Regions from separate parts of the Homo sapiens genome. Here regions 1 and 3 are each linked to region 2. Evidence: fine-mapped QTL for protein levels in blood plasma. A gene starts in region 2. Each other region holds a variant in brackets. All regions are shown on one strand. Distances are between the middles of the regions. Region 1 holds the start of WDR82 (WD repeat domain 82). Region 2 holds the start of SEMA3G (semaphorin 3G). Region 3 overlaps SEMA3G (semaphorin 3G).

Evidence for each region. PIP is the chance, under the fine-mapping model, that this variant and not a neighbour inherited with it causes the effect. Sun 2018 read protein levels with aptamers (SomaScan).
Region 1: its variant is fine-mapped to the plasma level of the SEMA3G protein (Sun 2018, PIP 0.95).
Region 3: its variant is fine-mapped to the plasma level of the SEMA3G protein (Sun 2018, PIP 0.95).

The regions. Positions count from the first base shown.
Region 1 is chr3:52,275,511-52,284,146 of GRCh38, forward strand. It overlaps WDR82 (WD repeat domain 82), which reads right to left and starts at 3,139. Exons shown (of 9, transcript NM_025222.4): 1 at 2,691-3,139. The coding sequence starts at 2,851. LOC107986086 (a long non-coding RNA gene) reads right to left here. Exons shown (of 3, transcript XR_001740699.2): 3 at 6,808-7,421. RefSeq lists enhancers at 1,866-2,498, 2,002-2,051, 2,072-2,151, 2,562-2,661, 3,131-3,762 and silencers at 2,852-2,931, 3,112-3,401. The variant G/C (reference allele first, on the strand shown) is at 3,906.
Region 2 is chr3:52,442,433-52,447,499 of GRCh38, forward strand. SEMA3G (semaphorin 3G) reads right to left here and starts at 2,671. Exons shown (of 16, transcript NM_020163.3): 1 at 2,481-2,671; 2 at 315-475; 3 at 127-189. The coding sequence starts at 2,595. RefSeq lists enhancers at 1,768-2,644, 2,645-3,521.
Region 3 is chr3:52,428,282-52,436,917 of GRCh38, forward strand. SEMA3G (semaphorin 3G) reads right to left here. Exons shown (of 16, transcript NM_020163.3): 16 at 4,754-7,792. The coding sequence ends at 7,322. Among named protein-coding and RNA genes, the nearest start is that of SEMA3G, 13 kb to the right of the region's middle. RefSeq lists enhancers at 1-2,834, 413-512 and a silencer at 1,692-1,852. The variant A/G (reference allele first, on the strand shown) is at 5,176.

The DNA.
Region 1 (8,636 bases), 170 kb before region 2:
CCCTGTAGTATTGTATCAGTACTAAATTTCCTAATTTGGATAACTGTGCTCTGGTTACATAAGAATGTCTTTGTGCTTAGAAAATCCACGTTGAGCCGGGCGCAGTGGCTCATGCCTGGAATCCCAGCACTTTGGGAGGCTGAGGCGGGTAGATCACGAGATCAGGAGTTCAAGACCAGCCTGACCAACATGGTGAAACCCTGCCTCTACTAAAGATACAAAAATTAGCCAGGCATGGTGGCATGCACCTGTAATCCCAGCTACTCAGGAGGCTGAGGCAGGAGAATCGCTTGAACCCAGGAGCCGGAGGTTGCAGTGAGCCAAGATCACGCCACTGCACTCCAGCCTGGGCGACTGAGCGAGACTCCATCTCAAAAAAGAAAGAAAATCCATGTTGAAGTGTTTAGGGATAAAGGGGCTTGATACCTCCAACTCTAAAGGTGGGGGGAGGCACACAGTACATATAAATATTTACCTACAGTCATGAAGCAAATGCAGAAAATGTAACCAGTTATTGAATCATATGGGAGTTCTTTGAAACACTGTAACTTTGTTAGTTTCTAATTATGTAAAAATGCTACGAGTAAATAAACTGCCTTATGTCACAAAACTAGCATTTTACTTTTAACAAGACAGGATTTGGCCAGGCACAGCAGCTCATGCCTATAATCCTAGCACTTTGGAAGGCCAAGGCGGGTGGATCACTTGAGGTCAGGAGTTCAAGACCAGTCTGGTCAACATGGTGAAACCCCATCTCTACTAAAAATACAAAAGTTAGGGTATGGTGGCAGGCGCCTGTAATCCCAGCTATTTGTGAGGGTGAGGCAGGAGAATCGCTTGAACCCGGGAGGCAGAGGTTGCAGTGAGCCAAGATCGCGCCACTACACTCCAGCCTGGGCGACGGAGAGAGACTCCGTCCCCCACCCGAAAAAAAAAAACAAAAAAAAGAAAGACAGGACTTCATGTCAAGGTCATCCTTCCCAAATCAAAATTACGCCAAATTTGGGGACAAACTGCAAAGAAATGCTATAACAACCTTCATTTCCTTTAAATGAGGATATACATCTCCACCCTCAGGTTCTGGGAAGAGGTTCTAATCTGTGCATAAGCACTATACATTTCATGCAAGCCAGCTTCAAATTACTCCTCCAGGACCCCACAATGCTGACCCTACTACCACACCTTTAAATGTTACTTCGTCTTCTAAACTGATTCAAGTGACCAGACCAGGACAGAAATCCATCTACTCAATGAGTAACACTGACTCAAATAACTATTTGTCCAGCTAACAATTCCCTCTTCCTTAAGACCACCACTGCAGACCACTCTGCCACAAACTGCAGGCAGATCCAGAGCCGGTTACATAATACTTTCTCACAGCCCCAGTGGGGAAAAAAACTGGGGGGATACCATTATAGCTCAGTCCAAACTAGCATTACTTCAGATAATCAAATTCACAAATGAAGAGATATGTTCCAAAAGAAGGACACCAGTCTAAAAAAAAAAAAAGGAAAAAGGAACAGCTGGAGAAGGTGGAGAAAAACCCAAGATCTCAAATAATAATAATAATAATAATAATAATAATAATAATATCTGTTACTAGGTGACAAAATCAAGTCTGAAAAAACCAGGGTCCACCGAATTAAACCAAACATCAGCAAGCCTTCTTGGGGAAGGTGGCTAAGGGTAAAACGAATTTAATCTAAACTAGTTTTTGGCTCCAAGGAGCTGCAAGTCCACAGGCGTGCGGTGAGGAGGGCTGACAAGGACCCCCAGGGAAAAAGGCAAAGTGCTGTGCTTAGATTTTGCGAAAAGATGCAGGTATGGTGGGTCTCCAGATGACTTGTGGCAACATAAAAGTTTCATGATCAGAATTGGAATTCAAAGTGGACCAAAAAGTGTAATAGAAAAAAAAAAGTATGAAAGGAAACCTGAAATTGTTCTACGATGCTTGCTTTGTTTTAACGGAAGCTCACATTCAGGTCAGGATGGGACGACCAAGTTCGTTTGTGTGTGGCAAAAAGGAAGTTTTAGATGTTGCTGAAAAGTTCACTTATGAACGTGGGCACCAAGTCTGAATGAGTAAGAGAAAGGCTAGGAGCAGGAAGAAAAAGCAAGGGGGCTCAAAGGGGCACAACAAATAAATCCTGACAGCTAAGAAGTGCAACCCACGCGGTCTGACGGCAGAAAGGCCGCGGGAAGCTGAGGGGCAGGGGATGGGCGGAGTGCCAGGGCGGAATCGAGGTCACAGTGGAGAGAGCACAAGAGAGAGCTGACGCTGCCGAAGGAGGCAGAAAAGCAGCCCCTGCAGTCCTGCGTCGAGGCCGGAGCAGACCAGCACCTTTGACAGCCTGAGGAGCTGAAAACGCTACCTGGTGGGCCCAGGGTGGGCGGACCGGGCGTTTAAAGGTCAAGGTCAAGGTGGGGTTTGGCAAGTGATGCATAGCGCTCAAAGGAGACCGAAGACATACAAATAATATTATAAAATTATGACTATCGTTATCTTTTTTTTTTAAGAAGAAAAAAATAAAAGGTCTCCTGGACGGCTGCGGGGTGGAGGCGGCCCTGGCAGGAACGCGTGCAAAATAGGCTGGGGGCTGAAGTCGGGACGGAGGGCAGGCCGAGGGACCTGTGCTGGGCCACCGGAGGGAGGCACTGAGACTCGGGCCCAGGGCCTCCGCCGCACTCACTTGCCCTCCTGGCAGTCATAGAGCACGATGGAGTCGTCGTCGCTACTCGAGATGACCGTCTCGCCGTTGGGGCTGAAATCGAAGCAGTTAATCTTGTCCGAGTTTTCGCGGAACACCTTAGCGACGCGGAAGCTCCGCAACACGCTGTCGGTCAGCTTCATGGCGGCGGCTGGGGAAGGCAGCGGCGGCGCAGGGCCGGGGCGGGGCCCGGCGGCGAGCGGGCGGGCTGCCGAGGGGCCAACCCAGGCGGGGCGGGCGCCGCGCCGGCGGCTAGCGGGAAGTCGGCCAACAGTTGGGCCGCCTCCTCCTCTTCTTCCTGCTTGGTCGAGGGTCTTCTGCCTGGACTGTGGAGCCTCGCCGACCGTTCGTCCTCACAGCCACCTCACGGACAACCGGCGCGTCGCCGGCTCATTGTGTCCGCCATTTTGGGGCGACAGGCAGAAGCTGAGGGCGAGGAGCCTCAGCCGCGGCGCACGCCGGGAAAGGGGGCGGGGCGGGAACGGCGGAGCAAGGCGGGGAGGCGGGGTGGTGACGTCAGCGCGGCCGCGGCGGAGTGTAGTGGCGGGGCGGGCTGCTGGCAGGGAGCGGCCGAGACGTGCAGGGCCTTCCCGGGGGATCGGAAGGTTGCGGATGCCTTGGGAGCCGGGGGCCCTTGCGCGGGATTGCAACCCCCGCGAAGACTCTGGCGCCTCCTGCAGGCGTCCCGATCGCAGGCTGCGTGGGAGGGGGTACTGCAGGGTCGGGTATGCTGCTGGAGGCCGGTTTTGGGGGTGACTCAGGTGAGCCGCTCGCAGGCAAGCTTGACCGCTAGTCCACCGCAGCGTCCGCTTAGACAGCTTCGACCTCTTTACTTTTTTTTTTTTTTTTGGAGATGGAGTCTCTCGCTCAGGCGCGCGCCACCACGCCCAGCTAATTTTGTATTTTTGGTAGAGACGGGGGTTCACCATGTTGGCCAGGCTGGTCTCGAACTCCTGACCTCACCCGCACCCGGCCTCGTTTTCTTAATCGAGGTAGACTTTAGGTACAGTAAAAATCAGCCTTTTTAGGCCGGGCGCGGTGGCTCACGCCTTTAAACCCACCACTTTGGGAGGCCGAGGCGGGATGATCGCTTGAGCTCAGGAGTTGAGACCAGCCTGGCCAACATGACAAAACCCCACCTCTACTAAAATACAAAAAATTAGCCGGGCATGATGGCGCGGCTGAGGCACGAGAATT[G/C]AGAAAGGCGGAGGCTGCAGTGCGCCGAAATCGTGCCACTGCATTCCAGGCTGGGCGACAGAGCAGACGGTTTCCCCCCAAAAATTAGCCTTTTTAGTGGCTAGTTTTATGTTCTGACACCCATACACAGTCATGCAGTCACCACCACATTCAAGATTTGGAAGAGTTGCACTATCCTGTTTGTAGTCAACAGGATTATTTTAAAGGTTCTATCATATAAGTGATTATTTGCCTTAAAAGAAAGTTTATCTCTAACAAAGGAAAGCAGTATTTGAACAGAAAATAGGAACCAAGCTTCCTAACCTTAACTTTCTGGGCAAGGGGTTAAACTCAATGCCAACCTATGTGGCTTCACAGATCTGTATCTTGTGTGAAGCTCCTCAAAAGGTTAATTGCCTGGGGTTTCCAACAATGAAGATGGGGATTATTTATTTTTGCTTTCTTTAGCTAAAGAGAAACAAAAACGAGGAAAGGCTGTGAGACATTTCAGTCGCTATTAGGAAGGTTATTATCCAGAGACCTGTGCAATGGTAAAAAACAAAATGGAAACCCTGGGACAGTTGGGGTCTTTCTAGAAAGAACTAGAGGCTGTATCCCAACCCCCTGGGTAAAAGGAGAGCCAGGATCCTTATACATAAAGAGAAGTTGTTCTCTAAGGGAAGAGGCAAGTTCCTGGCTAAGTCTGGGGTATAATTGCCTCCTGACAAAGAGCAGAGCTTCTGGCTACAATTTGTTCTGGGGTCTGGAAAAAGCCGGTTTGAGTGAAACCTGAATAGATGGCAACTTTCCAAACTGCACACAATGGAAGAAAAACCCTCCACGTCCCAGATCACTTGCTCTGCTTCCCTGTAATTCCTGTGCCTTTATTTCAGAAGCTAGAAAGTCTGATACAGCGTCTGCTTCGAATAGTTTAGAAGGCAACAAGGACAGATCGAGTACCATGTTCTAGAACTGTCGGGAAGTGAACACACCCAGTAAGATGATGCCATATTTTGGTCCATGTTAATCTACAAAAATAACCACAGAAACAGCTGTAATCTACTGAATGTTGCCAGCCAAAATAAATCTTTGCAGGGTATTTTTCAAGTATTGTACTTCCTATACCTTTTCCAGATTTCACCGTTAAGACCAAACCTTCCTCCCAAGACTTGACTTTCTGCATTATTTTTGGAATGCAGTCTTTTTTTTTTTCCCCCATTTTTAAGAGGGTCTTCAAATCCTCATCCTGTTTCGCATTCTTACTGTTTCCAATTCCTAGCCTGGCTCCCTGCCCTATTATAGTGGGGCTCTCCTGGCTTCCAGCCCAACAGTATGGTTGCCTTAAAGGATGGACTTTAGGCCAGGTGCGGTGGCACTTTGGGAGGCCGAGGTGGGTAGATCACAAGGTCGGGAGTTCAAAACCAGCCTGGCCAAAATGGTGAAACCCTGTCTCTATTAAAAATACAAAAATTAGCTGGGCACAGTGGCGGGCACCTGTAATCCCAGCTACTTGGGAGGCTGAGGCAGGAGAATCGCTTGAATCCGGGAGGCAGAGGTTGTAGTGAGCCGAGATCACACCACTGCACTGGGCATTAGAGCAAGACTCCGTCTCAAAAAAAAAAAAAAAATGGACTTTAAAAAGTGACACAGAAAGCCGGCTCCAGTGGATGGGTGGATGGAGAGAAAGCTGCAGTCAAGAGTGAATCAGATGGGCTTTAAAAGAGCATCAGACTTAATTTTTTATGTTTCCTTTTATTTGTAGTCATTCTTTTACTTGTCACATATTCATTGCAAAAAAACTAAAAAATACAAATAATAAAAACAGCATCCAGAGATAGCCACTGTTACAATCTTTTATTATAGTGAAATATATATAACACGAAATTTACCATTTTGATGTAGAACCTTTCCGATTTTTTCATATACATATATATATATATATATATTTTTTTTTTTTTTTTTTTTTTTTTTTTCCTGCTCTGTCACCCAGACTGGAGTGCAGTGGCGTGCTCTCAGCTCACTGTAACCTCCATGTCCTGGGTTCAAGTGATTCTCCTGCCTCAGCCTCCTATAGATGCCCGCCACCACGCCCAGCTAATTTTGTATTTTTAGTACAGACGAGGTTTTATCATGTTGGCCTGGCTGGTCTTGAACTGCTGACCTCAGGTGATCTGCCTGCCTCACCATCCCAAAGTGCTGGGATTACAGGCATGAGCCACCACACCCAGCCAATCCCTGAAATATATTTTTATTGGGTTCATAATATATTGTTTGTAAGTTTACCCATACTATGAACATATTCCAGGTCAATAAATATCGATACAATCATTTTGAATGGCTACAAACTATTCTATTATATGGCTGTAAAGTAATTTTGCTTCCCATTTTGTCCAGAGCCCAGCCAGAGCTCAGTATGGATTAATTGAATAAATGAATTTATCCAAAGGATTCCAGATACTTGATTGGCCCACTTATTAAATTTTTCTATTTCATGCTGCACAATTGGAATGGAAACTGTCCTAAACAATGTGTCCTCTTTCCAAAACACAGAGCTCCTTATGAATTCTAATTCTTTGAGATAAATTTCTGAGCTCCAGTGCCCAGCAGCAGGGCTTCCCTAGAGATTGACTAACGTCTTACTCAACCCTTGGAATAACTAGAATCAGGTGACTCTCTTCTTTGGGACAGTTGCATGTGTGTAAGTGTGACAGTGTGTGTGTGTATCAGTGCTTACACAGCCCTCGGAATAACTAGAATCAGGTGACTCTCTTCTTTGGGACAGTTGAGTGTGTGTGTGTGTGAGCTTAATTGCCAAAGAGGAAACGCAGAACACTAGAACACAAAATGCCTGGTGAGGTGTCTGAGCCCCAGCACCAGGAAGTGGTCGCCTCACAGGTTGGCAAAAAATTTACTGACAACAGTATAGGTTTGAAAAAGGAAAATTTCTTAGAAAGAAAGAACGCTGCAGAAGAGTGCAGCGGGGCACCCCAGCGAGAGGACTGAGGGCCTTGGTGGATTTTCCTTAGGTGCATTTATGGACCTTCAGGCAGGAGCTTAGGGTTGTAAAATTAGTTTCAGCATGACATTCCAGAGATGCCTAGAAATTTTAGTTACTTATAAAAGTTGAAAGAGGCCTGGAACCAGATGCCCACTTTAGATACTAGGGAAGTTTAATTACTTCTAATTTCCCCAGATAAGGAGTTTTGCCTCTGGATGGCCTGTTGGATGGTTACCAGGTGGTCTTTGCTCCCTTCTAAATTCCTCAGATAAGGGCCAGGCACAGTGGCTCATGCCTGTAATCCCAGCACTCTGGGAGGCCAAGGTGGGTGAATCACTTGAGGTCAGGAGTTCAAGACCAGCTTGGGCAGCATGGTGAAACTGCGACTCCACCAAAAAATACAAAAATTAGCCAAGCATGGTGGTGTGCGCCTGTAGTCCCAGCTACTCGGGAGGCTGAGGCAGGAGAATTGCTTGAACCCGGGAGGCGGAGGTTGCAGAGCCGAGATCGCACTCCAGCCTGGGCGATAGAGTGAAACTCTGTCTCAAAAAAAAAAGAAAGAAAAAAAATAAATATTACAAGGATGAAGTAAGCCATTTTTATTTAGACAGAATTTAAGTGTGTGCATGGAAAATCTTGTGGGATATACATGAATATGACCAGAAATAATAAATAAATTTAGTTACTAATGTATGTCCACTTCTACTGGAATTCCTCAGAGAGGTCTTGAGACTCCAGGACCGGGGGCCTGGATAAAAAGAAAGTATCTTTCCCTGGCAGCAGGACTAACTACCCAATTTGTAGGGCCCCTTGTTAAAAAATTGCTAAGAATCTCAAGATGACAACAACAGAATATTAAATGAAGTGCAGGGTCCTTCTGACTATACAAGTCACACACCCATGAAGCTGGCTCAACCCAGGACTAGTACAGCAACAACACTGAGCCTTTCTACATGCACTGGAAACATACTGTGATGAAGACTCTGAAGTTCTGAGAGGTTAACTTTCTCAGGGTCACTTAACCAATAAGCACTGAAGTCTGGATTCACACTCTGCTTCAGCACTGGAAAGCTTGTGTTCTGTTTCCAGGGCAAAGGACAAGAAATCATTCACATTTAACAAAGACCACTGTCGGTAAATAATACCTTCTTAGTCTGGAAGGAAAGGATGGAATCTTCCCAGATAAGCCTTGACTGCTCAGAGCCAGAAGGAACTGCCTAGAGTCTCAGGGCCAAGGCCACTGTCTCTAAAACTACAGCACTGTTTCCTAAGGCTTAAAAACTCCCAAACAATCCAACATACACAGCTTTAGTGGCCTCTCATCAGTGCTTGCCTAGAGTCATGCTGAACTGCTTCCTAGTGTTTTGTTTTACTCTCCCCAACTCCTCCTTCCAAGAAAAATAGCTTTAAGATGTTTTATTTTTTTTAATTTTTTTTTTTTTTTTTTTGAGACAGAGTCTCACTCTGTCACCCAGGCTGGAGTGCAGTGGTGTGATCTCAGCTCACTGCAACCTCTACCTCCTGGGTTCAAGCAATTCTCCCACCTCAGCCTTCCGAGTAGCTGGAATTATAGGTGCGTGACACCACATCCGGCTAATTTGTTGTTGTTGTTGTTGTTGTTGTTGTTGTTGTATTTTTAGTAGAAACGGGGTTTTGCCATGTTGGCCAGGCTGGTCTCAAACTCCTGACCTCAAGTGATCCGCTCACCTCGGCCTCCCAGTTTTAAGGTGTTGTACAGCCCTTACATAGGACAC
Region 2 (5,067 bases):
CTTCAAAAGCCCTCAAGATCTGCTCCAAATGCCCCTGGTAGAGGTACCTGGGGCGTGGTCACGGATTGTCCTGGGGGTCAGGGCAGGGTGTCAGGTCGGGGGACCATCCCTCCCGACAGCACTCACCAAAGGATCTCTTCCCTTTCGAACACACTCCTCCCTCTGTCCTGGCTGCGGTGGCCACAGGACCTGGAACACAGCCCCGCTGACCTCAGGTCCTCCCCTGATCTCACAGGCTCAGTTTCCCCATCTGGCCTCCCATCTGGAGGTGCCCAGTTCTCAAACAGACCCTCTTCCCTGCCAGTCCAGCTCACCTCCCGGGGATCTGGCCATGCCTGGTCCAGCCGCAGAGAGTAGAGGGCGTCCAGGCCACCCAGAAAGAGGCGGTCTCGGTACTCATCTAGGTACATGGCCTGGAGGTTCAGGGAGCCCTGGGGGCCCAGAAAGATGGCAGAGCGGTTGGCAGACAGGAGGTCTAGGAGGATGTATGGGGAGGCAGATCAGGGCCACAGCTCAGCCTAGTTCCCCAGCCAAGGAGTGGAGGTGGAGGCCCCGGCTGAGCATCCACCCCTGACACACTCACATCTGGAAAATGTTTCCATCCACATGGTGCTGGAAGGCTTTCGGACCATGGCTCCTGGGGACAGGTGGGACGGGAGGCTCAGAGCCTCCCACCTGGCCCAGCCTACCCTGGGGCCTACCTCCCACCCCTCCATTCCTTAGCCCTTCATCATGCAGCTAACATCTTCCCACTGTCCCATCTGTGCCCTACCCAGTCCCCAGGGAAGAAGGCCCCAACCAGCAGAAACTAGAGCAAAGTGCTGGAAGATCCTGGAGGAAGGGCGGGAGTCTTTGCAGGCCGCCTGGCTCAGCTGGAGGGTGGGCCAGCAGGCGAAACTGTTCCCAGCAGAGGGGACCCCTGGCAATGGCCTGGGTGCAGAAAAGGGAAGGTATGGCCGGGAAGGGCTCCCACCTCCAGTCCAGGGATGCGGCCAAAGACAATTTTCTCCCCACAGATGCTGGCTATCCCACCCCAGAGATGAGAGCGGGGAGCTGTCTGGGGACATCGGTCCCAGGAGTTGAGGATCCTGAGGTAGGTCCTCCGGGCTTGGCTAGGGAGGTGGAGGTAATGGGGGCAGTAGGATGTGGCAGGAAGAGGGTGCTGGCCACCTTTGGGAAGGCCCAGAGTGTCCTATGCCTTCCCTACGGAAGCACCTCTACCCAACACCCATTCCACCCCCAAAACTCATCAACGGTCTCTTCCGGGAAGCCCTCCATGGATGACAGTACCTTGGGGAACTTTCCCTATTTGGGGCTTTTTCTAGCAGTCTGACCTCCCCGCAAAACCACAGCTCCCGGAACAAGACCACATTCCCCTCAGCCTCTCCAGGGACGAGCGCCATCTCCCCCAGCAGACTGGGCTTCCCAGGGGAAGGTGGTCACCCCTCTGGTTTCCTCAGGAAGGATCTGCCAAGAGCCTGTCTCGGGCCTTCCCTGGGCCCATCCGTGGAGGCCTGAGCCGGCTCACATGTCTAGGGTAGAACACAGGAACCCCCAGGCTGGGATGTGCAAAAAGGGGAGGTGAAACTCCCCCTGGGCTGGGGCGCTTCTTGGGTGCAGGAGCACATGAACAAGCCCACTCTGGGAAGTGGGCTGCAAGGGGGGTCCTCCCCTTCTCTGTGGCCCCAGGACCAAGGGATAGCATGCTGCCTGCTCTCCCGTTGGCCACCCTGGGCAAAAAGTGCCAGTTGAGCCCAGACAGACCCTTCAGCCCCACCCTCTCTGTCACTCTCCCCTGCCTGGTCCCTTCCTCTGTCTCCTCCCCATCTTTATTGAGCTCTCTCAGGGTCTCCATCTGTCCCTTTCTCAGCACTCCCCCTCAGGTGCCTCCCACCGCCACCCTGGTCCTGTCTCCCAGGACCTGCCTCCCTCCCACTCCCCGAGAGCTGTGCAGGGAGAGGCTCCCTCCCCTACAGCTGACCAGGCACCCAAGAGCCCAAGCCACCCAAACAGGGCACACGCACACAAACAGGGCACACGCACCCAAACAGGGCACACGCACACAAACATGGCACACGCACACAAACTCGGCACACGCACCCAAACAGGGCACACGCACACAAACTCGGCACACGCACACAAACACTGCACACGCACCCAAACAGGGCACACGCACACAAACACGGCACATGCACCCAAACAGGGCACACGCACACAAACAGGGCACACGCACACAAACACGGCACACGCAAACTCGGCACACGCACACAAACTCGGCACACGCACACAAACACGGCACACGCAAACTCGGCACACGCACACAAACTCGGCACACGCACACAAACACTGCACATGCACACAAACACGGCACACGCACCCAAACAGGGCACATGCACACAAACACGGCACATGCACCCAAACAGAGCGCACACACACAAACAGGGCACATGCACACAAACAGGGCACGCAGGGGCTGGTACCTCGGTAGGAGAGCCGCAGGCGGGGCACACTGGGGCCGGGGCTGGGGCCAGAGCTACCCCCATGGAGCAGGAGGCCCCCTAGCAGCCAGCAAATGGCCCAGGCCGAGGGGGCCATGCTGGGGAACTGAGGGCACCGCTGCCGCCTGCCTGCAGAGCCGCCCTCTGGTCCCGCTGGCCGCCGGTTGTAGTTTGCTCTGCTGCCACCAGGCCACCACTTATAAGGCAGTGGCTCCACCCAGTCCTGGGCGGGAAGAGGGGCGGAGGAGAGAAGGAGGCTGGGGCCTTGCCGTCCACCTGCCGCTTCTCCTTCCACCTTGTTGGCCCAGTGCAGGCTTTTGTGCCACACTGGCCAGCTCCCCATTGGGAAGACCTTCCCAGCTAGGGCACAGGCCATGTGTACAGAGATGTCCACAAATGCAGGTCCCCAGGCTCCAGCAAAGTGACAAGTGGGGAGAGAGCCTGGAAGGGAGGTCAGGGATCAGAGGTTAAAGTTGATGGGCTGGGTAGGGGCCTAGCTGGGCTCTGCCTTGTTCTCTGCCCCTCCACTGCCCACAGCAGAGACCTTCCAAACTGGCCCTGCCCCAATTCCAGGATATTCCAGCCCCCTGAAGCTTTGGCCAGACTCTCCAGCTCCCCTGGGTAAGGGTGGAGGGCCATTCCCAGCCCAAGGGGCGCCATGTCCTAGACAGGTGTTTGAGGTCCGGCAACACTTCATAGAGCCAGCAAGAGATGACTGCCCAGCCTCTTCCACCCAGGCCTGTCCCCATCTGGCTTCCAGGCACCCCAGCCTCTCCCCACATCTACATGCCCCATCTCAGCTCACCAGGCTTGCTTTGGGGTAGGGGACAGGGGCATCAGGGGACTCCATGCCGAGGGAACCTCCCCTTGCCCTGCCTCCCTCAGGCCTCCAGTCCTTCCAGAGACTCAGGGTCCAGAGCTTCCCCAGGTCAGTGATGGTTCTTCCCAGGGACCCCATGCCCCATAGGCCCTACAGACACCTATGATCTCTTAGAGGTCACTTCCCCCACCCTGAATACTGACTGGGTGGCGGGGGGCACAGAAAGCCACAGAAGAGGGCCAAAGGGGAAATGGGACTGAGGGCCTGAATCTGGGGTGAGTGACGGGACCTCCCCATGCTCCCTGCCCCAGAACAGTCGCCACCTCACCCCACCCCAGAACCCTACACTCAGAACCTGAGGCCCTGGGCACTAAAGAGATTTTAATTTTGAGCTGGAGTTTGAGTTCCCAGGATTCTAACAGCTCCTGCAGGTTGGGCCTCCCACATGGACCGGCCTGGGCCCTCTGATGGTGGTCAGGGAACTTGCGGGGCACTCAGAGAGGGAAGGACCTGGCCCAGGCCACAGAGCAGGCTGAGAATGGGTCCAGCTCAGCTCTGCCCCTTCCTGGGACCCTCCTTTGCTTCTGGGCGTTGTTGGGAGTATGGGGACCCCACCCTCCTCCCCTACCTCAATCCTGAAATGGAAACAGGTTGGCTTCTTGGGTCAGCATGACAGGTCTCAGAGACCTACAACTCTGCCTCCCTGTCCCCAGCTCCCTTCACTCACACATGCCTTCTTCAGCAGGGGGCTGGCCTGGAGGTGGGCAAGGGGCTGCCCACAGAGGCCAGTGATGGAGCTCAGCCCAGCCCTGCCTCTGGCCCTGCTGGAGAGCCTTGGCCAAGGCCCTTCCATCTCTGGGTCTGCCTCTTCCTCCCAGGGCCAGGGACCAGCCACCCTGGGTGTAAGCAGCCTTCATAACCTGATGAGTGGGCTTGCGCAGGGGCTGCTGTCAGGGTGACCATATCCTGGGACCTTGGAGTGGACTGCTTCTGTCTCTGTTTCCCTGGGGAGGTGTGGCCAGCACACTGCCCAAGCTGGGGCCAACTTCTAACTGGAGACTGAGCTAGGCAGCCCTTCAGCCAGCATGTGACCACCAGCGGCGGGCAGGAGGCCCAACACTCCTCAGCCTGCCAGCCCATCCTGGGGTCTCAGCTCAGCCAGACACCCAGCAGGGGCTGCAGGGAAGCCTGGGTCGACTGGGGAAGGGTGTGGGGGCAGCCTACTCCACACTGCGGAAAGAGCCTGTGGCAGGCTGGGAGTCCGAACTCTACTGTTAATGTGTGTGGCCTCAGTCAGGTCCTCTCCTTCTCTGGGCTTCAGTTTTCCAGGCCTGGGGGCAGAGGGTAGGGATCGTCTCTAAAGGCCCCCCTGCTTGCCAGCTGCAGGTGGGAAAGACCACAAGGGTGCTCCGAATTCGAGGATCAATGGGCCCAGACACGGGCATCGTGTGTCATCTAGTGGACAAAGAAGGAACTGCAGGAGGCCCCCAAACTCGCTGTGTCAGGCCCTGTGTTGGGGTAGCAGGGCCACCCAGCAGAAACAGCAGCCTCTTGAGGACGCTAGCAGTAACCAGGCAAACACAATATAAAGAAGCAGGAGCAGTGGAAGATGCTCCAGTGATTGCTCTTGATGGAGGAAATCAAGGGAGGCTTCATGGAGGAAGCACTATCCAAGCAAAAGCCCAGAAATGGAAAGGATGCAGCAAAACAGGCAAAACTAGGTGATGCATGAAGGATACAAAATGCCAT
Region 3 (8,636 bases), 12 kb before region 2:
GGCATTCAAGACCTTCTACAAACAGGGCCTTCCATAGCTGCATCTCCCAGGACATCCCACCCACAGGCCTTCTTCTCTGGCTGCCTCAGAACACTGGGCCCGGGCCTGGGGTGCTCAGCCTGGAGAGTCCTGGCATCCATCTTCAGCCTGTTAAACACAGCCTAAGGGCTACTTCTTCATCTCTAGGCACTCTTACTGTCTCTGTTTGTACCCCCTGTTATAGCCCATGTCATTCTCTGTCTGTCCTACAGTTATGGGTCTGTCTTTCCTGCTAGATCAGAAGCTCCAGGGACCTGTCTGTCTTATTAACCTTTCTTCCCCTCATGATGCCTGGCCCAGGACTCCACGTTCAGAGGCAGTTTAATGTCTACAGAACTGATGGATGCTCCATACCCTGTATTCATAAGCCTGTGTTTTGCTGCCAAACACCAGAGGGCACTGTTAGCATGTCGATGAAGATTATAAACCCTCAGACCTGGAAGGCTGGGAAAGGCTTATGAAAATCTTGCTTCTGTTTTGGGATTACATAAGACTTATTGCGCCTCAATTGTTCTAAACACATCTGTTCGAGTTTATTCATGAGGCACGTTCCTGTTGGGGTTAGAGATGAGTTTGAAAGCTCCCCGTCACAGGTCAAATCCTTAGACAAGACTGCCTTCATAGTCTCTCCAGACCCAAAGTGGCTCTCCTAACCCACCAAAAATATCTCCCAATTACTCATTGAGAGGCATCCAGATGCCCTCTCCTCCACCAAAAATGGCGACTGCCAGTCCCAAGGGGGAATGTGTGATATGGTTCTATTCCTTTTCTGCCCCACCCTCCTCCCACATGCACACATGCACAGGTACCTGTCCACACGAATGCACACTCACTGCCATCAGGACCTCTGGGTGGTGGCTCAAACGGTGGCTCAAAGGCTCTAGCCTCTATGGGCAGGGTGGGAGGATGCTATGAGAAGCAGCACCTCCACTGGCCCTGACCCCAGGGAGACAGCATCAGTTTCCCATGTGCTCCCAGTCACAGCATCATGGGGGCCCCCAGGTGTGAGAAGTCTCCCTAGTGACTAAGCCAGGGAGCTCCATTCCAAAGGAGCTGGCTATTTGCAAAGGTGTCATGGCTTGTACATTTTTCCAAAAAATGACAGAAAAACTGAAGAACTGATTTTTTTCCCAAAACAAAAAACCCTTGCCCTCACTTCTCCCTAGCAAACCTGCTCTAACCCTGGGATCCCTGAGCAACATGACAGCATGAGGTCCAGATGGAAGGGGTAAGCCCCAGGAGCCCCTTCCCCTTGTCTTTGGTGTAAACTGGCTTCTTGACCCTGCCCTGCACACACCCCTAATAAACAGGAAGGCATCCGCGCCATTAGTATCCATCCTTTTCAGAGCATCTGAGACCTGTCTGGACCATCAAAGCCATCCCCAGCCCCCAGGAGCCTACTGGAGGAGACACCAGCCTCGCCAAAACAATTCTCCATTGTGTTCTTCCCCTTAGAAATCATGGGTTTGTAAACAGGCCCTTACATTTCAGCAGGTCCTGCCCTGGCTTTGTGCTGGTGTGTTGTTTTTTCTTCCCTGAACAATGTCCTTTCCAGTAGGGCCAGCCGTTCACACCATTGTCTGAGACCCTTGGACTACAGGAAACATCACCAGATTCTTATCAGTTGGGGGCAGGAGTGGGGGGGTGAACAGATGAGATCATGTCCACAGAGCAAGTGGCTGGTGTGCCACGTCATTCCCCATGCCTTCATCTGTGAGAGCAGAGCCCGCTCGCCCTCCATCAATCTGGGCTTCATGTGTCCAGAGTCCAGTCCCCTCTATTTGGTGGTAGACACCTGGACTCTGTTCCAGGCCTCTGTTGAGTCACTTTGGAATCCTATCAGTCTGCAACTGTCCCTTTGCCCTGGTCATTCCTCACAGCAGTGAAACAGGCCCTTTTGGGTGGATTAGGGGGTACTCTGGTCATCATACTCTCCGGGGTAAAGAGGTCAAGACTGGTCAGCTGAGTCCTCCCATCAGCAGTGTCCCTGCGTGCAGGCTATTAGCTAGCTGCTGGAGGCCTGGCCCAAAGACAGCCCCATATCCCTTACACCGCCTCCCTGGAGACTTTGCAGCAGCCCTCATCCTCAGTGGAGAGTAATTTTTTTAAAGGCTTCATGAGGAACCAGGAGTTTCCTTAATGGAAGTCCAGCAAGGAAAGTGAAAGGCTTCATTAGGATGCAGTCTCTAAGGGAGAGGGGCCCAGTAGTGGTACCCCCAGCAAAGGTGGCCAGGGACTGGGCAGTGGGAACGGGCACAGGGCCACAGCTGCCTTGCCTCGTCTCCTGTACATCCGAGGGATGGCTGAGTACGGAAGGAGAGCCAGGGTGCGGCCCAACAATTCCCAGGCACCTTATCAGATTTTTATCTATTTATTTATTTATTGAGACAGAGTCTTGCTCTGTTGCCCAGGTTGGAGTACAGTGGCGTGATCTCAGCTCGCTGTAACCTCTACCTCCCGGGTTCAAATGATTCTCGTGCCTCAGTCTCCTGAGTAGCTGGGATTACAGGTGTGTGCCACCAGCTAATTTTTGTATTTTTAGTAGAGAAGGGGTTTCACCATGTTGGCCAGGCTGGTCTCGAACTCCTGACCTCAGGTGATCCACCTGCCTCGGCCTCTGAAAGTGATGGCATTGCAGGTGTGAGCCATCGTGCCTGGCAACCTTATCAGATATTGTGTCCAAACCTAGCCCTACCCACTGTCCCTCTTTCCGAGTTTAGAGTCTTAGAAGACCCTGGGAATTTGTTCCTGGTGTGTGTTGAACTTTATTCTTGTAGAACCCACTGCAATCCAAGACTTAGGTGAGGCTGGGATGGGACCTTAACTGGGATGGAAATTGGGCTATTTCTGAGCAACTACCCCCTAGCTCTAAGATGTGGTTGGCCAGAGGTGCCTCTGTTTGCTGGATTTCCAGAGGCATGTGAGCCAGTCTTCTGGGGCCCAACTGGCTGGAGCTGCAGCTGGACCCCCTGCCAGCCCACAAAGAGGACAGGCTGGCTGGAGGTACACCAGGTTCTTGGGGGCTGCTACCTGACCATTCCTCCAAGCAGGGGATTCTAGGGCTGTCTAGGACCTGACCCCAAGCTTAGCCAATGAAAGAAAAGCCCAGGAGTCATTTGAGAAAGTGGAAACTGCTGTTTTCCTCTCTTATTCTGACTCCTTCCTGCCCCTCACCTTCTTAGAAACGAGTCTGTTGGATGGAAGGACAGCCACAGACTAGGGGTGAATGCTAGCCCTCCACAGAGGACCATGACAGACACAGGAGGGGCCAGAAATAGGCTGGTTATGGGAGCACGAGAGCCGGGAACAGAGCACAGTCCAGGCCCAAAGGGCAGCAGATTGGCCGCTTGGCAGCCCTGTCCCGGGGTAGCAGAGTCTACTCTGGCGAGGGTCATAGGAAACCAAGATATGGCTATTCATCAGGAGGCTGGGGCTTCCAGAGCCTACAAGCTGGGAAGGCAATTACTAATTAATCAAGCTCACATGTTAAGGGAGGGAATTAACCTAATCAACATTTTTCCAAAGTGTGTTCTTCAAAATGTTAGAAACATGAGATGTTAGCTGCTCCATGGGAAAAAAAAAAAGAGAGAACCAAATGTTTTGGAAAAGCACATAGCACATAGTAGGCATGCACATTAGCAAGAGATCATCACAGGACTTCTCAGGGCCTTCACAGGGCAAGCCAGCAGGCAGCATTTCAGCTCTGTCAGGGCCAAAGGGGCAGAACACGGGGACCACGAGATCATGGAGGGTCCCGTGGGATTATAGTTATCTCTTGGAACCACTGGGCCAGTCTCATTCTCTAGGCCCCTTTCCAGCTCTAAACCTGTTTGGGAAGTCATGGAACAGAGTCCCAAAGAGCAGAGGAAGCATTAGACGCAGAGGAAAGAGCTGTGACAAGACAACAGAGAGAGGCTGAAATCGCTGAGGCAGGAAATAGGGCTTGAGATGGGAGGGGGAGGTGGTGTGGACCAGGAAGGGGTCTGGTCCAGAGGGGTCTTCCGGACCACCCTTGGGAGAGTGATGCAAGAGGGAAGAAGGGGGCTCTGGAGGCCGCCTTCGCACACCCTTCCCAGCCCAGCACACTGTGCCAGGTGGGTGCCCTGGTGACACTTCTCAGTCAGAGGTGATGATGCTTCCTGGGGTGGGGTGACAGGGTTTCAGGTTCTGTCAGGCCTAAGTGATCGTGGAGGGGGCAAGGAACAAAAGGAAAGGCCAGCTCCAGGGCCCAGACTGCAAGATGAGACTTATGACTGACCTGTTAAGACCCCTAGTCTACAGCATGGATCGAGGGGCCTGTTCAGGCAAGAGGCCCAGGGAAGTCTCCCTGGGAAGGTGGGGTTATGACCCTTCCATCTTCCTCTAGCATCAGTGGATTCTGCTCTTTGGGCTGAGGTGTTGATGTCAGTGGGGAGTGGGAGCCATGCCCAGACGGACCTCCTGCAGTGTGCCCAATAGGTCAGATGTTCGGGGCCTCCCCTCCTTTCCAGAAGCCACAGTCCCCACAGCACAGCCCCAGTCCCCCAGCCATGAGGACTTAATATCCATTGGTATGTGGCTTGGGATGAAGGCAGGAACCATGCCAAGTGTCACTGTGACAAATGTCAAGTGTTGTTGTGAAAAAGGAGCAGAGCTGCCTACGGGCCCAGCTGCCCTTTGCCAGTGTTTTTTTTTTTTCTTTTAGTTCAAGATCCTCCTGAAGTCCCAAGAAGGTCAGTCTTACAAGCCCACAGGCCAGGATGTTCCTCATTTAATGAGCAATCTCGGCTTTGTACAAAGCCCTCTAACTCCTTCCTTCCCCTGATACCCATCTTCCTCCTTTCTAGAAAGCACCACCCAGTCTCTTTCTTTAAGTCCTTTTCCAGCTCTAAAACCTGTTTGGGAAATCATGAAACAGAAGTCACTCAGGGTGACCTTCTTTCTCATGGAATGGATGGGAGGGCTCTTCATTTTCAGCTCATGTGCGCAGCATCAGTCCATTTAGTACAATACACAGATACACAGTAATGATATAATTATGTGATGCAAATATTAACTTCATCCCTTTCCTTGTAAATTCAGCTTTTCTCACCAGAGCTCAGGGGCAGTCATGACAATAAAAATAACAATAGTAATTACAAGAAATGTGCTCTGAGT[A/G]CAGAGAAACCACAAGGCCCATCTCAACACACAAATACAAAAACAACTCGCATTTACGGGGCGTTTCCAGGAGTTAATAGCATACAGTACCATGGGTAGGGTGTGGTTGGCAGAAGCTGTCCACTTTTTCTAAGTGCAGGTGTTCGTTGCTGAGGATCTTGTGCTCCTCCTCCCTTCGTTTTCTAGAGTAACTTCCCAGAGGACCCTGCCTGGAGCCTGCCAAGCCAGAGTCCAGCGTAAAGGCCCGGAGGGCTGTTTGTGTCTTTCTGGCCTCCCTAGGGTAGAGGGCAGAGCTGGCTGCAGCTCTGATACCCTTTCCTGGAGCTCTGCACTCTCTCCTCCCCTCTTTAATCCCCTCTGTCTCCCCTCCCTTCTGCTCTTCAGCCCCCATCCTTTCCTCCTCTCCTCCTCTGCCTTGACCAGCTGACCTCCCAGCAGACAGCACCGCAGGCTGGAAGGCTTCTCAGGGCGTTGATAGGTTAATCTCAGTGCTTCTGGTTCATTTATTACATGGTCAAAGGGGAGAACGGAGGGACTATTTCAGGTCCCAGTTCTCTGGAGGTGCCAGGGGTAAGGGAAAGATAAAACCCAAGGCAGTCTGGGTTTGAGTTTCAATAGGGCAGGGAACCCTGGCTTGCTTTTTATCTTTTTTTCCCCTCCTTTCTTTGTCTTGGTTGTTTTAATGGAGGGAATCTCAAACCCAGTGCTCTTATCTCCTTCCAGCCAGTTTTGTGTGTCATGAATGTGTTCATGTGCAGGCTGGGAACAACTTTTCATTTAGTCCTCCTCCTCCCCTCTGTGCTCCCCAGCCTGAGAAACTGGTGATGGCAAAAACACCTCCCCTACATGCCCAGGCAGAACGCGTCCTTGCCATCCGAGCCTTACCCCCGAGAATCAGCGGGACTTACACTTCTTCGTCCTTTTCTCTACCTTGTTTCCCCCTTAAAAGAAAAACAGTCTTCCTAAATCCATTTAGCATAAAACAGAGATTCCAGAGATGGAAACACTGGGTCTTCCAGGTGGCTTCTGAGCTAACTGATGCCATCCTGAGTTCTTGTGGACACCTGTTCCTGCCTGGGTCCCACAATCTATCCTAAGGGTCTCCTGCCCTCTATCCATCTCCATATCCTCTCAATCTTCTGCATCCCTGGCCCTGATTCTGAGGGCTGCAGGGCTCACAGAGCCTCCACATTCCCAGCCTCCAGGGCTGCGGCATGCTTGCATCACCCTGGGAAAGACAGCCCACTCTTCCCGCCTGCACCCTTCCCCAGCTCCCCCACCCTATCTCTAGTCCACAGACACAAGGGACAACAATGCCCCAGAACCCACCCCTCCCCGCTCGTGGACATGGAGAGCCTGACAATGGGGAGGGGGTCCTCTCAGGAGGGGCAGGCATCCCAGCAACCCTGGCCTGGGGAAGGGAAGTCAGGCTGTGAGATGCCCCCACCTGGTTTACAAAGTGAAGCCTGAGCCCTGACCACCCCAGATCCCTGGGGGCTCTAGCAGTCTATGCCTCTAGATTATCTACACCTCTCCGTGATTCTCAGATGGAGAAGAGGCGGTGGGCAGTGGCAGGGAGCCACCAAGATATCACGGCGCGACAGGAGGGGAGGTGCATTGTTGCTCCACCTTCCCAACACCTCTGTGTTCCCTCCCCAAGTCGGTCAGGTAGGCTCTTCTTACGGGGTGCTAGCTTAGAGGCCATTTCCACCCTCTGGCTCCCTGCAGGCCCCCTACCGGGATACCCCCTAGACGCACCCACACACCCACTCTGAGGGTCACTCAGAATGGCCATTGTTCTGTAGGCTGGGAAAGAACCACCCAACCCTCTTGCCTCTGGGCACACCCGGAAATGTGTTGCGGAAGCCAGGCCATCTCTGAGAACAAATGGCAGATCCCTTGGGGCTGCCAGCAGCCAGAGGGTGCTGGCTCCAGCTGGGTCTAAGAGCACAGAGAAGGGCAGGGAACAGGCTTCAAGAACCCAGCCCCTCCATTAGACCCCAGTAGCGGTGTGGGGGCAGAGACACCTGTCTCTAAGAGGCAAACAGACATCCTGACCCCTCTGCCCTAGCTGGGTGGGTGGGAGATGCTGGGGGCTGCTAGTGGGCCCCCCAGCCCATCCTGACCACCCCTCCTCTGCCCCCTTCTACGTGGCCTCCACCTCCCGGGGCGTCCGATTGTGCTCGGCATGCACCCGGCTCTTCATCTTCTTGCCTAGCTCCAGCCCTGCCCAGCTCTTGCCCCTGGCCTGCTTGCCCCGGCTCCGGCTCCGGAAGCAGCCTGAGCATTCCGTGGTGCCCCTGCACCACACGCGCTCACAGTACTCATCCACCCGGGGCAGGTTGGCGAAGCCAATGAGCTGCAGGATGTCCTTGTACCAGGCCTTGGGTGGGGTGGAAGCCAGGCCTCCCCGGGCTGGGGGCTCCTCTGGCTTTGGCTCCGGAGGGAACAGGTTGTCCAGCTGTGAGGCCACAATCACCACCAGAGCCAGGCGGACCACAGTCTGGGAGAAGCCATGCTCCAGAGTGGTGCAGGTGTAGGTGCCCGCATCGAAACGGCTAAGCCTGCGGAACAGCAGCCCCCGCTCCGTGTGCAAGACTCGCTCGTCCGTCTTCACCTGCCATGCGGGCGGGAGGGCGTGAGTAGGGTGCAAGGTGGGAGTTTACCATCGGCTTCTCTGCCCCAGCTTTTCTGCCATCCTTGGGGCCCAGTGCCTGGGCACTTCTTGCCCTATTCTCCCCTTCCCAGGAGGGGACCAGCAGCGTGGCAGTCTGGGCCTCCTCTAGACCACCAGCTAATTCAGGTGGGGCCTCACCTTCCCATAGCCCAGGAAGGGGCCTTCTCAAGGATTTGACTGGCTGGTTTCTCCCTTAGTCAGAGGACTCCAATCTTGGCCTCAGAGGGCCCTGGCACACATTCCCAAGGAACATAGGGGCTAAGATGTTATCCCCTTAGCCCTTCTGGAGGTACCATCCCATCTACAGGCTTTTCTCAAGGGAGGGGCTGTGCCCCCTGGCCCAGAACTGGGCTTCAGAAACTCCCTATGCTACACACATACAATGTGCGTGTGCCCACGCACACATGCACGTGCACGCACACACACACAGAGACACACACAGGGCCTTCCCATCCTGGTCTGAACCGTTCATTCCCCCAACGGTGCGAGCTGACAGCCCCAGCCCAGGGTGGGCTGATCGCCCATCACAGCGTGGGAAGTGGGAGTGCCGCCCTGATCCCAGCCCGCCTCTGGCCTGGACCCTGTGTGGGTTTTAGTCTGCACATCTGTGTGTTGGGGGTGGATTGCTTGAGCCATTAGCTAGTGTTGTGAAACACCATCTTGTTGCTCCCCTCCTCCCCTGGGGAATCTTCTCAGTGCCCAGCCCAACAGCTGGCCCAAGGCTGGCCTCCCCCAGTTCCCAGGCTGGAGGGAGAGCCCCTCCTGTAATCAATCCACTCCTGCC